4 linked regions of the Homo sapiens genome follow. The protein of the gene in region 4 interacts with the protein of the main gene of each other region in a biochemical or structural test. Each region holds a gene or a part of one and is shown on either strand. Other genes may lie near its edges.

Region 1 (3,500 bases), on a different chromosome or scaffold from region 4:
AATGGTGCCCAGGCTGGAGTGCAGTGGCGTGATCTCGGCTCACTACAACCTACACCTCCCAGCCGCCTGCCTTGGCCTCCCAAAGTGCCGAGATTGCAGCCTCTGCCCGGCCGCCACCCCGTCTGGGAAGTGAGGAGTGTCTCTGCCTGGCCGCCCATCGTCTGGAATGTGAGGAGCCCCTCTGCCTGGCTGCCCAGTCTGGAAAGTGAGGAGCGTCTCCGCCCGGCCGCCATCCCATCTAGGAAGTGAGGAGCGCCTCTTCCCAGCCGCCATCACATCTAGGAAGTGAGGAGCGTCTCTGCCCGGCCGCCCATCGTCTGAGATGTGGGGAGCGCCTCTGCCCCGCCGCCCCATCTGGGATGTGAGGAGCGCCTCTGCCCGGCCGAGACCCCGTCTGGGAGGTGAGGAGCGTCTCTGCCTGGCCGCCCCGTCTGAGAAGTGAGGAGACCCTCTGCCTGGCAACCACCCCGTCTGAGAAGTGAGGAGCCCCTCCGCCCGGCAGCTGCCCCGTCTGAGAAGTGAGGAGCCTCTCCGCCCGGCAGCCACCCCATCTGGGAAGTGAGGAGCATCTCCGCCCAGCAGCCACCCCGTCCGGGAGGGAGGTGGGGGGGGGTCAACCCCCCGCCCGGCCAGCCGCCCTATCTGGGAGGGAGGTGGGGGGTCAGCCCCCCCGACCGGCCAGCCGTGCCATCCGGGAGGGAGGTGGGGGGGTCAGCCCCCCACCTGGCCAGCCGTGCCGTCCGGGAGGGAGGTGGGGGGGTCAGCCCCCCGCCCGGCCAGCCGCCCCGTCCGGGAGGTGAGGGTTGCCTCTGCCCGGCCGCCCCTACTGGGAAGTGAGGAGCCCCTCAGCCCGGCCAGCCACCCCGTCCGGGAGATGGGGGGGTCAGCCCCCCCACCCGGCCAGCCGCCCCGTCCGGGAGGGAGGTGGGGGGGTAAGCCCCCCGCCTGGCCGGCCGCCCCGTCCGGGAGGGAGGTGGGGGGGTCAGCCCTCCGCCCGGCCAGCCGCCCCGTCTGGGAGGTGAGGGGCGCCTCTGCCCGGCCGCCCCTACTGGGAAGTGAGGAGCCCCTCTGCCCGGCCAGCCGCCCCGTCCGGGAGGGAGGTGGGGGGGTCAGCCCCCCGCCCGGCCGGCCGCCCTGTCCGGGAGGGAGGTGGGGGGGTCAGCCCCCCGCCTGGCCAGCCGCCCCGTCCGGGAGGGAGGTGGGGGGGGTCAGCCCCCCTGCCCGGCCAGCCGCCCCGTCCGGGAGGTGAGGGGCGCCTCTGCCCAGCCGCCCCTACTGGGAAGTGAGGAGCCCCTCTGCCCGGCCACCACCCCGTCTGGGAGGTGTGCCCAACAGCTCATTGAGAACGGGCCAGGATGACGATGGCAGCTTTGTGGAATAGAAAGGCAGGAAAGGTGGGGAAAAGATTGAGAAATCGGATGGTTGCCGTGTCTGTGTAGAAAGAAGTAGACATGGGAGACTTTTCATTTTGTTCTGCACTAAGAAAAATTCCTCTGCCTTGGGATCCTGTTGATCTGTGACCTTACCCCCAACCCTGTGCTCTCTGAAACATGTGCTGTGTCCACTCAGGGTTAAATGGATTAAGGGCGGTGCAAGATGTGCTTTGTTAAACAGATGCTTGAAGGCAGCATGCTCGTTAAGAGTCATCACCAATCCCTAATCTCAAGTAATCAGGTACACAAACACTGCGGAAGGCCGCAGGGTCCTCTGCCTAGGAAAACCAGAGACCTTTGTTCACTTGTTTATCTGCTGACCTTCCCTCCACTATTGTCCCATGACCCTGCCAAATCCCCCTCTGTGAGAAACACCCAAGAATTATCAATAAAAAAATAAATTAAAAAAAAAATAAAAATAAAAAATAAATAAATAAATAAATAAAATGAAAAAAAAAAAAAAGAACTACCTGAGATTGGGTAATTTATGAAGAAAAGAGGTTTAATTGACTTACAGTGCTGTAGGCTGTATAGGAAGCATGGCTAGGAGGCCACAGGAAATTTACAATCATGGCAGAAGGCAAAGGGGAAGCAAGGCACATCTTACATGGCAGCAGAAGAGAGAGAGCACAAAGGGGGAGGTGCTACACACTTTCAAACAACCAGATCTCATGAGAATTCACTATCAACAGAACAGCAAGAGGGAAATCTACCCCATGATCCAATTACCTCCCACCAGGCCCCTCTTCCAACACGTGGGGATTACAATTTGAGATGAGATGTGGGTGGGGACACAAAGCCAGACCATATCAGGTATTAGGTTGATTCCATGTCTTTGCTATTGTGAATAGTGCTGCAGTGAATATTTGTGTGCATGTATCTTTATGGTAGAATGATTTATATTCCTTTGGGAATGTAATGGGATTGCTGGGTCAAATGGTAGTTCTGTTTTTAGCTCTTTGAGGAATCGCCACTCTGCTTTCCACAATGGTTGAACTAATTTACACTCCCACCAAGAGTGTGTAAGCATTCCCTTTTTTCTGCAACCTTGCCAGCAGCTGTTGTTTTTTGAGTTTTTAATAATAGCTATTCTGACTGGTGTGAGATGGTATCTCATTGTGGTTTCGATTTGCATTTCTCTAATCAGTGATATTGAGCTGTTTTTCATATGCTTTTTGGCCACTTGTATGTCTTTTGAAAAGTGTCTGTTTATGTCCTTTGCCCACTTTTTAGTGGGGTTGTTTGTATGGAGGTTCATCATTAGTTACATTTAGTCAATAGATTATATGTGTTGTAGAATATGAAATTTATTCGTTTAAATTGTAAATAAACTATTTCATCAGGTTAAAAAAAAAAAAAAAAGGAAATCAGAAAATCCCTAAGAATAAAGCAAGAAAGTCACTGTAGTCTGATGCCTGGCGCCCACCCCAGACCATTTTTATGACAATCTCCATAAGTAGAGCACAAGTACTGGGGTTCCTTTAAACTTTTTTTCCTTTAAATTCCATTTTCTGCAGGGAAGTGGGTAGGGTCAGGAATGAGATCAATACACCCTGTCTAGGCCCAAATGTTCTACTTCAAGCTAACATGCAGCCAAGGTTGAGAACTTCTACTCTATGCAGACATACCTTTCAACAAAGATTCCTTACAGGAAACAACTATTGACTTCACAATCACAAAAAATTCAGGCCAGGCGTGGTGGCTCACACACTTTGAGAGGCCCAGGAGGGCGGATCACCTGCAGTCAGGGGTTTGAGACCAGCCTGGCCAACATATAGAGTGAAACCCCATCTCTACTCAAAAATACAAAAATACGCTGGGCCTGGTGGCACGCGCATGTAGTCCCAGCTACTTGGGAAGCTGAGGCAGGAGAATCGCTTGAACCCGGGAAGTGAAGGTTGCAGTAAGCCGAGATCACGCAACTCTAACCCAGACTGAGTGACAAAGTGAGGGTCCATCTCTTTCAAAAAAGTCTATTGGCTCCCCCCGCCCCACCACCTTACATTTAGTATGTTTGTGTGTGTGTGTGTACCTACAACACACAACAAGCTGATTTTTTTTTTTGGA
Region 2 (3,136 bases), on a different chromosome or scaffold from region 4:
AGAGAGTGGGAGATATCCCTCTGTTGTCCATCGAAAGATAAAAATACAGGCTTTCAGCCGGGTGCAGTGGTGCATGCCTTTGGTCCCAGCTACTCAGGGGGCTGAGATGGGGAATCCTTTGAGCCCAGAAGTTTGAAACCAGCCTGGGCAACATAGTGAGAGACCTCCATCTTAAGGGAATAAAAAAAAAATCAGACTTTCAATATGAGTAACAAGTTATTTTTAGGCCTTTTATGACTTTATAAATAGGCAATAATGAACACCAAGGGAAGCAAAACACTGAAAAGAATTTTAAAATTTGTTGTAGAACATTAATACGAAATTTGAAACTGCAAAACAATGTAAAATTTAATGTCATGTTGTCATTTACTTTTGTGTATATTGTGCCATGTTTATTTTCAAAGTCCTATCTAGAAATTCTAAAATGTCTAATTTTCTTAATTAAAAATCCAGAATTCTGTAGTTTCTGAAATTCAAAATAAATACTTTAACATACCAAATTGGTTTTTCTAATAAACATTTATTTCAAGTGTTATTTGTTAAACATTTAATTGTTGAGATTTGAAAATGAACATTATTATTTATTAGACACATTTTATAGGCTCATTCAAAATTCTTAACTTTTGAGTTCCTGCTTTCTTCACAGCAGTGCACTCACTACTTTCTGGTATACAAGAAGAACAGCTTGTCCCCACTCTTACAGTGTAATGAAATTAGCAGTATAATGAAGAAAAGTGCTGTGTAGGAATGACTGAGCTCTAAGACAAACTGGTAAGAACAATTAGGTACTAAACAATGGGAGTACTAGGGAGAAGATTCATTTTGAGTGGGAGATGTTGGAACACTTTGGAAATAACACTGAATTTGGGTTCTGAAAGATGGATATAATTTTGATATGCAAAGTTATGAGGAAAGAGTTACTGTATAATCCAGCCATTCTCCTAGGAATATACATCCAAGAGAAATGAAAACAAGTCCACATAAGATTTGTACACAAAAGTTCATAGTAGCATTATTCATGGTAGCCAAAAAGTACAAACAACCCAAATGTCCATCAGCTGATGAATGGATACATAAAATGCGACATATCCATATGATAGAATATTATTTGGCAATAAAAAGGAATGAGATGCTGATTCATGCCACAGCTGGGATGCACCTTGAAAATATACTCAGTGAAAAAGACCACATGTATGATTCCATTTATATGAAATGTCTAGCATGGGCAAATCTATAGAGATGGAGAGTAGATTAGTGGTTACCTAGAGTTGTGAGAAAACAGAGTGAATACTAACGGGCATAGGGTTTCTTTTGGGGGTGAGAAAAATGATAGTTGCACAACTCTGAATATAGTAAACACTACTGAATTGTATACTGTATAGGTGAATTGTATGGCATGTGAATTATATCTCAATAAAGCAGTTATTAAAAAAAAAATGAAGAGAATTTCAGATAGAAACCACAGGAGAGAGCCACTGAGTGCAAAAGCCTGTTGAGGTAAAACTGCAGACCTGCATGGGTGGGGCTTACTCGGGAAACACTGAATATGGGATGCATCATGGAAGCCTCCAGAGGAGCATGGCCTTGCCCAGTGAACTGCAGCCCAGTGAATCTCATTTTAGACTTCTGGCCTCCAGAACAGAAAGAGAATAAATGTGTGTTGTTTTAAACCACCAAGTTTGTGGTAATTTGTTAGTTATAGCAGCCATAAGAAATTAATACAGGTCCAAATCAAATTAACCCCATAAGAGCCACACAGATTTGAGAAGCATTTTATTTGCCTCACAGTTTTGCCTATTATACAGTTTCTAGTTATTTAGAATTTAAGCCAATAATGTCACCATATAACTATCAACTGTGATTCCCTTCATCTATGACTATTTTTAAGAAATGTAAGATTTGGATAAGTCATAATCACAGATCAGAAACTGCAGACATTGAGGCCTGGATGGCCGTTTAGAGAGAAAGAGTTAACATTTCAGTGGAGACCTTTCCTATCTTGTATTTCCTACAGTCTCCTCCTATCTTCAGTGCAGTGTTCTGGCAGCACCTCAAGCTCACTGTCACCAAATGGGATTCAACGTCTTTCCTCCCAAACATGCTCTACCTCACCATGTCGATAGATGTACAGTCGCCCCACTACTGGCTTAAATTCTAAATTACTGAAAACCATGTAACAGGTAAAAGTGTGAGACAAAGTACCCCTCAAATACATGTGGCTCTTGGGGTTCATCTGACTGAGACTTGTATTTACTTGAATGGCATCAGAATCCTGCTACTAACCTTCTAACAAACTTGGAGGTAATCTTTGATGCTTACCTTTCCTTAATCCCCACATCCAATTAGTTGCCAACTCCTCTTGGTTCTGTCCTCTTATTGTTCAGGCCCTCTTAGTCTTTCCACTTCTGACCTTTCAAATATAGTTTCCTCCTGCTCTATTCTAAACATGCTAGTTTCAAAGTATTGGTTGGGCCATACCTTGCTTTAAAGAAATACTCATTTGTCAACTGTGGAGGTTGCTAGGGCACTAACTCACTCTAAAATTTGATAAATATTTATCGCATCTTTCCCATTCAGATTTAGAGAAAGTTCCTTAAAGAAGAATCATAGATGATAAATGCAAGAGGTTTGATAGAACCAGAAAATCACTATTTTACAACCCCTGAAATGAAATAATGGATCCAGGCAACAATTATCAATAGCTGCTAAAACCATCAGGTGAAAGATTGATGAGAAACTTTGTAGTAGTTGGTACCACCAGAACTCATTGATCAATATTAAAATCACTGAAAGTGGAACAATCAGACATCATGTTCCTCCTGAAATGATGTAAGAGAAAGTGTATAGCATCACCTATGGAGTATTCTTGGGGGAAAATAAATGAACCAGGATCAAATCCAGCTTCTAGGTCTAACTGGACACTCTGGGGATACTCTCAGTCAAATCCTGAGTGGAGGAAATTCCACAGGACAAATAAAAGCCGAAAAGAACTAAAACGCAGGGGTAAATTTTACAGAGTAAAGGAGACACATCAACCAAATGCAATGTTGGATCTAGATTTCAACAACCAAGAAAACTGTATTTTTGAGATAGAAACAATACAGACTATTATATGATAATTAAGGAAATCTTGTCA
Region 3 (2,925 bases), on a different chromosome or scaffold from region 4:
ATATATATATACACACACACACACACACACACACACACACTCTTCATACATATTTGTGTTTATATATGCTTATATATATTAAATATCACAATAGGAAAGTTTCTTACCCTTTCATTTAGAATTGCTTTAATAGTTCATTAAGTTTTAATGTATTGCTCAATAATTTTGATTGAATATATTTTACGATACATGATATAATAATGATATATTTATGATATGATAAAATATTTATGATATTTTAGAGAAACAAGTGGTTTTATAATGTCACACCATATAACATATTATTTACATCATAAATATACAACCATGCAATATGTGCTGAAAATGGCACAAACCTAAGTGGAAAGTATGAAGATAAAAGTGTTGTAAGTTTTCTCCTTTATTTTCCACAGATCTGTAATTTATGATCTTTAAAACAAGCCAGAAAGGATTAGGAAAACAGGAGATTTTGCATGTCGGCAAGTTATCTTAAAACAAATGCCTATTCCTATATATTCATAAATATTTTAAATTAGTGAAAGTTCTCATGCCAGGTTTCTAATAATAAAAGTGAGACAGCACCGAACCAATTACTTGGAAAATTTGGCAGGAAAAATCAATTAACAAGATAATTGGTAAGAGTGAGTAATGGAGCACCTTCAACGCTAGGTGGGATTCAAGCAAAGAAACTGCGTTTGCCGGGGTTTTCCAGGAAATTTGGACAGAAACAGTTCTCTGTACATCCTCATACAAATCACTTCCTCCTCCCTTCAGTTCCCCCACAGCGACTGAAGCAGGGCTGTGTGCACTCCAGAAACTCATGGAGTCTATGTTTAACAAGTGAGGGAGGTGAATAATTCCAAAATAAGTTCCAAGATAAGGGACTTTTCCTCTTATGCTGAAAATAACCTGTTCTGTGAATGACAGGACATTGGAATCACACAGACCTTGGTGAGATCATTGTCTTCACCATTTAAAAGTGCTTCACCTTGGGGAAATTCTATAGCAGAGTGATGCTCTTATCTCAAAGTGCTTTGGGAAGCAAATGAGATAATATACATAGAACACCTAGCATTATTAATTACTTCCTTTCTATCCCTCTCATCTTAATTAAAATTTTGGATAGCATTAAGGAACATATTCCCTATTAAAAATAATATGCTGGCTGGGTGCGGTAGCTCACGCCTGTAATCCCAGCACTTTGGGAGGCCGAGGCGGGAGGATGACTTGAGGTCAGGAGTTTGAGACCAGCCTGGCCAACATGGCAAAACCCTGTCTCTACGAAAAATTCAAAAATTAGCTGGGCATGTTGGTGGGCGCCTGTAATCCCAGCTACTCGGGAGGCTGAGGCCAGAGAATCACTTGAACCTGGGAGGTGGGGGTTGCAGTGAGCCAAGATCTCGCCACTGCACTCCAGCCTGGACGACAAGAGCAAAACTCCATCTCAAAAAAAAAAATAGAAATAATAATAATTACAATATGCTATCCCAGTTCCTGTTTTATGAATTTGGCCAAGCCAAGTAAGTGGCACTATAGAAAGAGCAAAAATAAATCAAAATATATTTAAATTATTATACATTATATTAGGTTATATCATCAAATTTTATCAATATATTTAAATATAAATATATTTATATATATTTTAAATATAAATATATAAAAATATATTTATATATATTTTAAATATAAATATATAAAAATATATTTATATATATTTTAAATATAAATATATAAAATATATTTATATATATTTTAAATATAAATATATAAAATATATTTATATATATTTTAAATATAAATATATAAAATATATTTATATATATTTTAAATATAAATATATAAAATATATTTATATATATTTTAAATATAAATATATAAAATATATTTATATATATTTTAAATATAAATATATAAAAATATATATATTTTAAATATAAATATATAAAAATATATATATTTTAAATATAAATATATAAAAATATATATATTTTAAATATAAATATATAAAAATATATATATTTTAAATATAAATATATAAAAATATATATATTTTAAATATAAATATATAAAAATATATATATTTTAAATATAAATATATAAAAATATATATATTTTAAATATAAATATATAAAAATATATATATTTTAAATATAAATATATAAAAATATATATATTTTAAATATAAATATATAAAAATATATTTATATATTTTAAATATAAATATATTAATATTTGAATATATTTAAATGAGGAATTGACCCCTATCTATGAAACATGAAGTGTTTGTCTCTAAATCCCCTTTCAGGAGAATAAAGTCAGATTTACAAATAAAATTTGTTCCCGACAAAAGTGACATGCTTCAATTTCATTCATTTCTTAATGAATATCATCACTTTAGAGCTGCCCTATTGTGCTTTATGAAGTTTTTCCCCTCAGTTAAGTTTCTCTCTGCCCTTGTATTGCTTGTGATTATTCGCTCAGAAAGTGATGTCTAGGCTAGCGTGCTGGTTTGGGAATGCGTGTTTTCCAGGTACTTGCTGCGAACCCACCACACCTTTGTTTTCTGCCCCCAACAGGAGGCTGCATGCACATGAAGTGTCCGCAGCCCCAGTGCAGGCTCGAGTGGTGCTGGAACTGTGGCTGCGAGTGGAACCGCGTCTGCATGGGGGACCACTGGTTCGACGTGTAGCCAGGGCGGCCGGGCGCCCCATCGCCACATCCTGGGGGAGCATACCCAGTGTCTACCTTCATTTTCTAATTCTCTTTTCAAACACACACACACACGCGCGCGCGCGCACACACACTCTTCAAGTTTTTTTCAAAGTCCAACTACAGCCAAATTGCAGAAGAAACTCCTGGATCCCTTTCACTATGTCCATGAAAAACAGCAGAGTAAAATTACAGAAGAAGCTCCTGAATCCCTTTCAGTTTGTCCACACAAGACAG
Region 4 (3,426 bases):
GAGAGAGATGAACAGGCAAAACACAGAGGATTTTTAGGGCACTAAAACTACTCTATTTTAATGGTAGATATACATCATTACACATTTGACCTGTGTTCAGTTCTGTTCACTTGTAGTATCTCTAGTTTAGCAATTCCTGACATGTAGTAAGATAAACTAATTACCCATCTGACCTTAGTCTGGCCCTGAAAACTAGTGTACCATTCTTCCTGGCTTCTTGAATTCAAGATAAACACTTGCAGTACTGTTTTTGCAGTAGACATTGTGTCCTAGCCCCAAACAAATCTTAGCAGTGAGGACTGTTTCTACTTAGAAAATTACACCACCCAACTCCAGCAGATTACTATATCATCAAAGATTCTAAGATTTGTGTCTTCTGCAAGTCAAGACATTCCTCGTTTTGGGAAGGTAGAGCATGGCACTGTGGAGGAACAGTTCCAATACCACTTCAACTGACATTCTCCCCACCTCCATCAAACAAGAGCAGCATACAAAGCACATCATTATGAGCAAATCCAAATTTATTTTAATGTCATGTCATTTTCAATGTGTTTAAAAACCTCATAAGTTAGTGGGAGCCCTAGTTTCCTGGGACAGCATGCCAGAGGTACTGAAATTTGTCACCTTTCTCTACAAACCCCCAGCAATCCAATCCAAGTCCATAGCTTCAGAAAGCCAGGAGTTGTGTCTTCAGTCAGTCTACGCCTCTGGTTCTTGGTTTTTCTTTCATGGGAGGGAGATCACAATATTTCAAACAGGGAACAAAACCAGTTGAGCTTCCAGCTCAGGTCTGTGTAAGATGGAGCGAGGAAAGACCCCACTGACTCCAGAGAAAAAGGGTAAGGTTGAGATGGATTATTTCTTTACAGCTTTGTGAAAATGGAAGAAAAAAGATTTACAAATGAGGATCCATTTCATAGATGAGAATCTCTTCATAAATGAAGGCTCCAGCTCCTAAAATGGGAGGGGCCTGACTGGACAGCCTGAATCAGATGAGGAATCGGCCACACTGAATAAAAACAATCTGAAAAATAATCCTCTTAATTTTGAAGCCAGATAAAATATTTGGGGAGAATGGAAAAAAGAGGAAAAAGCCCCAAACAGATGGAAAAAATGCTGACATCAGAGTGGTATAAAAAAATTCGGCTGAGTTTTCAGTGGTGGTGGCTAATTTAGCCCTGTTCTGTAGTGGGGCACAAACCTTGACCAAGCAGAGAGTAGTAGAAAAGGCTAGAAAGAGGGGCTTGAAGACGATGAATTTTGACTCCTGATTTTATTATTCAATTTCTTTTTTTCATTTAAAGTAGTCTTCCGTGGTTGGGAAGCCTCACCTCCCAAGACCAGAGTCAGTTGGAGCTGGTTGTTGTTGGAAGGGAGTGGGTTGGGGAACTGGGGTGGGGGCAGGGAGATCCCCCCGCTCTGCTGGCGGTCCTAGGTGGAGAAGAACTGCACTTCACAGAGTCTGGGGTTTGGTGGGAAGGGGATGAGGCAGGAGCAGCAAGCTGGGGAGATGGGACCCACCTCAGTCCCCAGCTTCATTTTCTTCTAATGTTTCCCCACTGGTGGCATTCTCTGCAGTCTTGGAGGCCTATATGCAAGAAAAGGAGAGGGAGAAGACCTGTCAGTTTCTAACTACTTGGGGATGTCTGGGACCAGAGATAAAAGTATTTTTTTTTCTGAGACAGTCTCACTCTGTTTTCCAGGCTGGAGTGCAGTGGTACCACTTCCCTGGGCTCAGGTGATCCTCTCACCTCAGCCTCCCAGGTAGCTGGGACTATAGGCATATGCCACCATGTACAACTTTTTTGTATTTTTTGTAGAGATGAGGTTTCACCATGTTGCCCGGGCTGATCTTGAACTCCTGGGCTCAAGTGATGCTCCTGCCTAGGCCTCCCAAACTGTTGGGATTATATGTGTGAACCACCACACCCAGCCATAAAGTTATCTCAATCCTCTGGGTCACAGCTGAAATAAAGACATACAGGTCTCTGACTTACAATGGTCAACTTGTGATTTTTCAACTTCACAATGGCGTGAAAGCAATATGGATATTTCGATACATGATAATTTGTTCAATAAATGTTTTGAGCACATTCAAGGTAGGCCAGGCTAAGCTATGAGGTTCATGGTAGGTTAAGGTACATCAAATCCATTTTGAGCCAGGCATGGTGGTGGCTACTCAGCAGGTCAAGGCAGGACAATCACTTGAACCCAGGAGGAGTTTGAGGATACAGTGAGCTATGATCATGCCTCTACACGTCAGCCTGGGTGACACAGTGAGATCATCTCTTTTTTGGAGACAGAGTTTCGCTCTTGTTGCGCAGGCCGGAGCGCAATGGTGCGATCTCGGCCCACTGCAACCTCTGCCTCCCAGATTCAAACAATTCTCCTGCCTTAGCCTCCCGAGTAGCTGGGATTATAAGCGTGTGCCACCACACCCAGCTAATTTTGTATTTTTAGTAGAGACGGGGTTTCTCTCTGTGTTGGTCAGGCTGATCTCAAACTCCTGACCTCAGGTGATCCATCCGCCTTAGCCTCCCAAAGTGCTGGGATTACAGGCATGAGCCACTGTGCCCGGCCAAAGCAAGGCTGGGCATGGCAGCTCATGCCTGTAATCCCAACAGTTTGGGAGGCTGAGGTGGAAGGACTGTTCAAGGCCAGGAGTTTGAGACTCTGTCTCTTAAAATATATATATATATATTTTAAAATCCATTTTGACTTACAGTATTTTCAATTTATGATGGGTTTACTGGGACAAAGTTCTATCATATAAGTTGAGGAGCATCTGTATAAAAATCCGTATTTCACTACAACTTAACACAGTGGGAGAAAGAGGGATCAGGTTCACCCTGCCAGAGAGGAATGATCGTTAATAACACACCTTCTTTTTTTTCTTTTTCTGGGTTTTTCGACTTGCAGAACTCTGGAGGAGGGCCTGGAAAACAGGAAGAAGGGAAAAAAATTTTGAGAAATGTGGAGGAAATTAAAAATAAAGGGTTACTTTCAGTACTGCAGCTCTTTTCAGGACTTTGCTGGCATTTAGCCCTCACTCCCAAGCAGGATACCATGTACATACTCACCACCTTCTATTCCATACTAACCTTTAGCTCTGCATCCTGGACCTCCATCTCAGACTTGTAGAGGTCAGGCTCGAAGGGACCACTGGTTATCCGCATGGGGCCATTGGGCATGAGCAGAACTGTAAATTTAAACTGGGCAACAAATTCACCTATGGCAAAAATGAAGATGTGTTTTGATAAAAAGTTCCTTTGTCATACTTAGCTCTTCTGAACTTACAGGAAGGATATCTTATAATCAGGGAATCCAAAGTGAAGCTCTTTTTGGAACTCACCCTCCTTCTCATAGAGAACATTAAATGGTTGCAGCAGTTCATGTTTGGCGCACTCCACCACACCCATCCGAGCC

Evidence for each region. The genes of interacting proteins can lie anywhere in the genome.
Region 1: the proteins of PA2G4 (region 4) and NPM1 form a complex in vitro, tested with the Homo sapiens proteins (one study listed by BioGRID).
Region 2: the proteins of PA2G4 (region 4) and EIF2AK2 form a complex in vitro, tested with the Homo sapiens proteins (one study listed by BioGRID).
Region 3: of the proteins of PA2G4 (region 4) and PRKN, one has a biochemical effect on the other in vitro, tested with the Homo sapiens proteins (one study listed by BioGRID).

What each region holds. Positions count from the first base shown.
Region 1 is NC_000005.10:171,401,349-171,404,848, reverse strand, and holds part of NPM1 (nucleophosmin), read right to left. Parts: intron 1-3,500. UniProt on the Homo sapiens protein: Involved in diverse cellular processes such as ribosome biogenesis, centrosome duplication, protein chaperoning, histone assembly, cell proliferation, and regulation of tumor suppressors p53/TP53 and ARF.
Region 2 is NC_000002.12:37,098,710-37,101,845, forward strand, and holds the end of EIF2AK2 (interferon-induced, double-stranded RNA-activated protein kinase), read right to left. Parts: 3' UTR 501-3,136; downstream 1-500.
Region 3 is NC_000006.12:161,349,842-161,352,766, reverse strand, and holds part of PRKN (E3 ubiquitin-protein ligase parkin), read left to right. Parts: intron 1-2,555; coding exon 2,556-2,668; 3' UTR 2,669-2,925. UniProt on the Homo sapiens protein: Functions within a multiprotein E3 ubiquitin ligase complex, catalyzing the covalent attachment of ubiquitin moieties onto substrate proteins. Substrates include SYT11 and VDAC1.
Region 4 is NC_000012.12:56,110,985-56,114,410, reverse strand, and holds the end of PA2G4 (proliferation-associated protein 2G4), read right to left. Parts: coding exon 3,353-3,426; intron 3,230-3,352; coding exon 3,102-3,229; intron 2,936-3,101; coding exon 2,882-2,935; intron 1,589-2,881; coding exon 1,523-1,588; 3' UTR 501-1,522; downstream 1-500. UniProt on the Homo sapiens protein: May play a role in a ERBB3-regulated signal transduction pathway. Seems be involved in growth regulation. Acts a corepressor of the androgen receptor (AR) and is regulated by the ERBB3 ligand neuregulin-1/heregulin (HRG).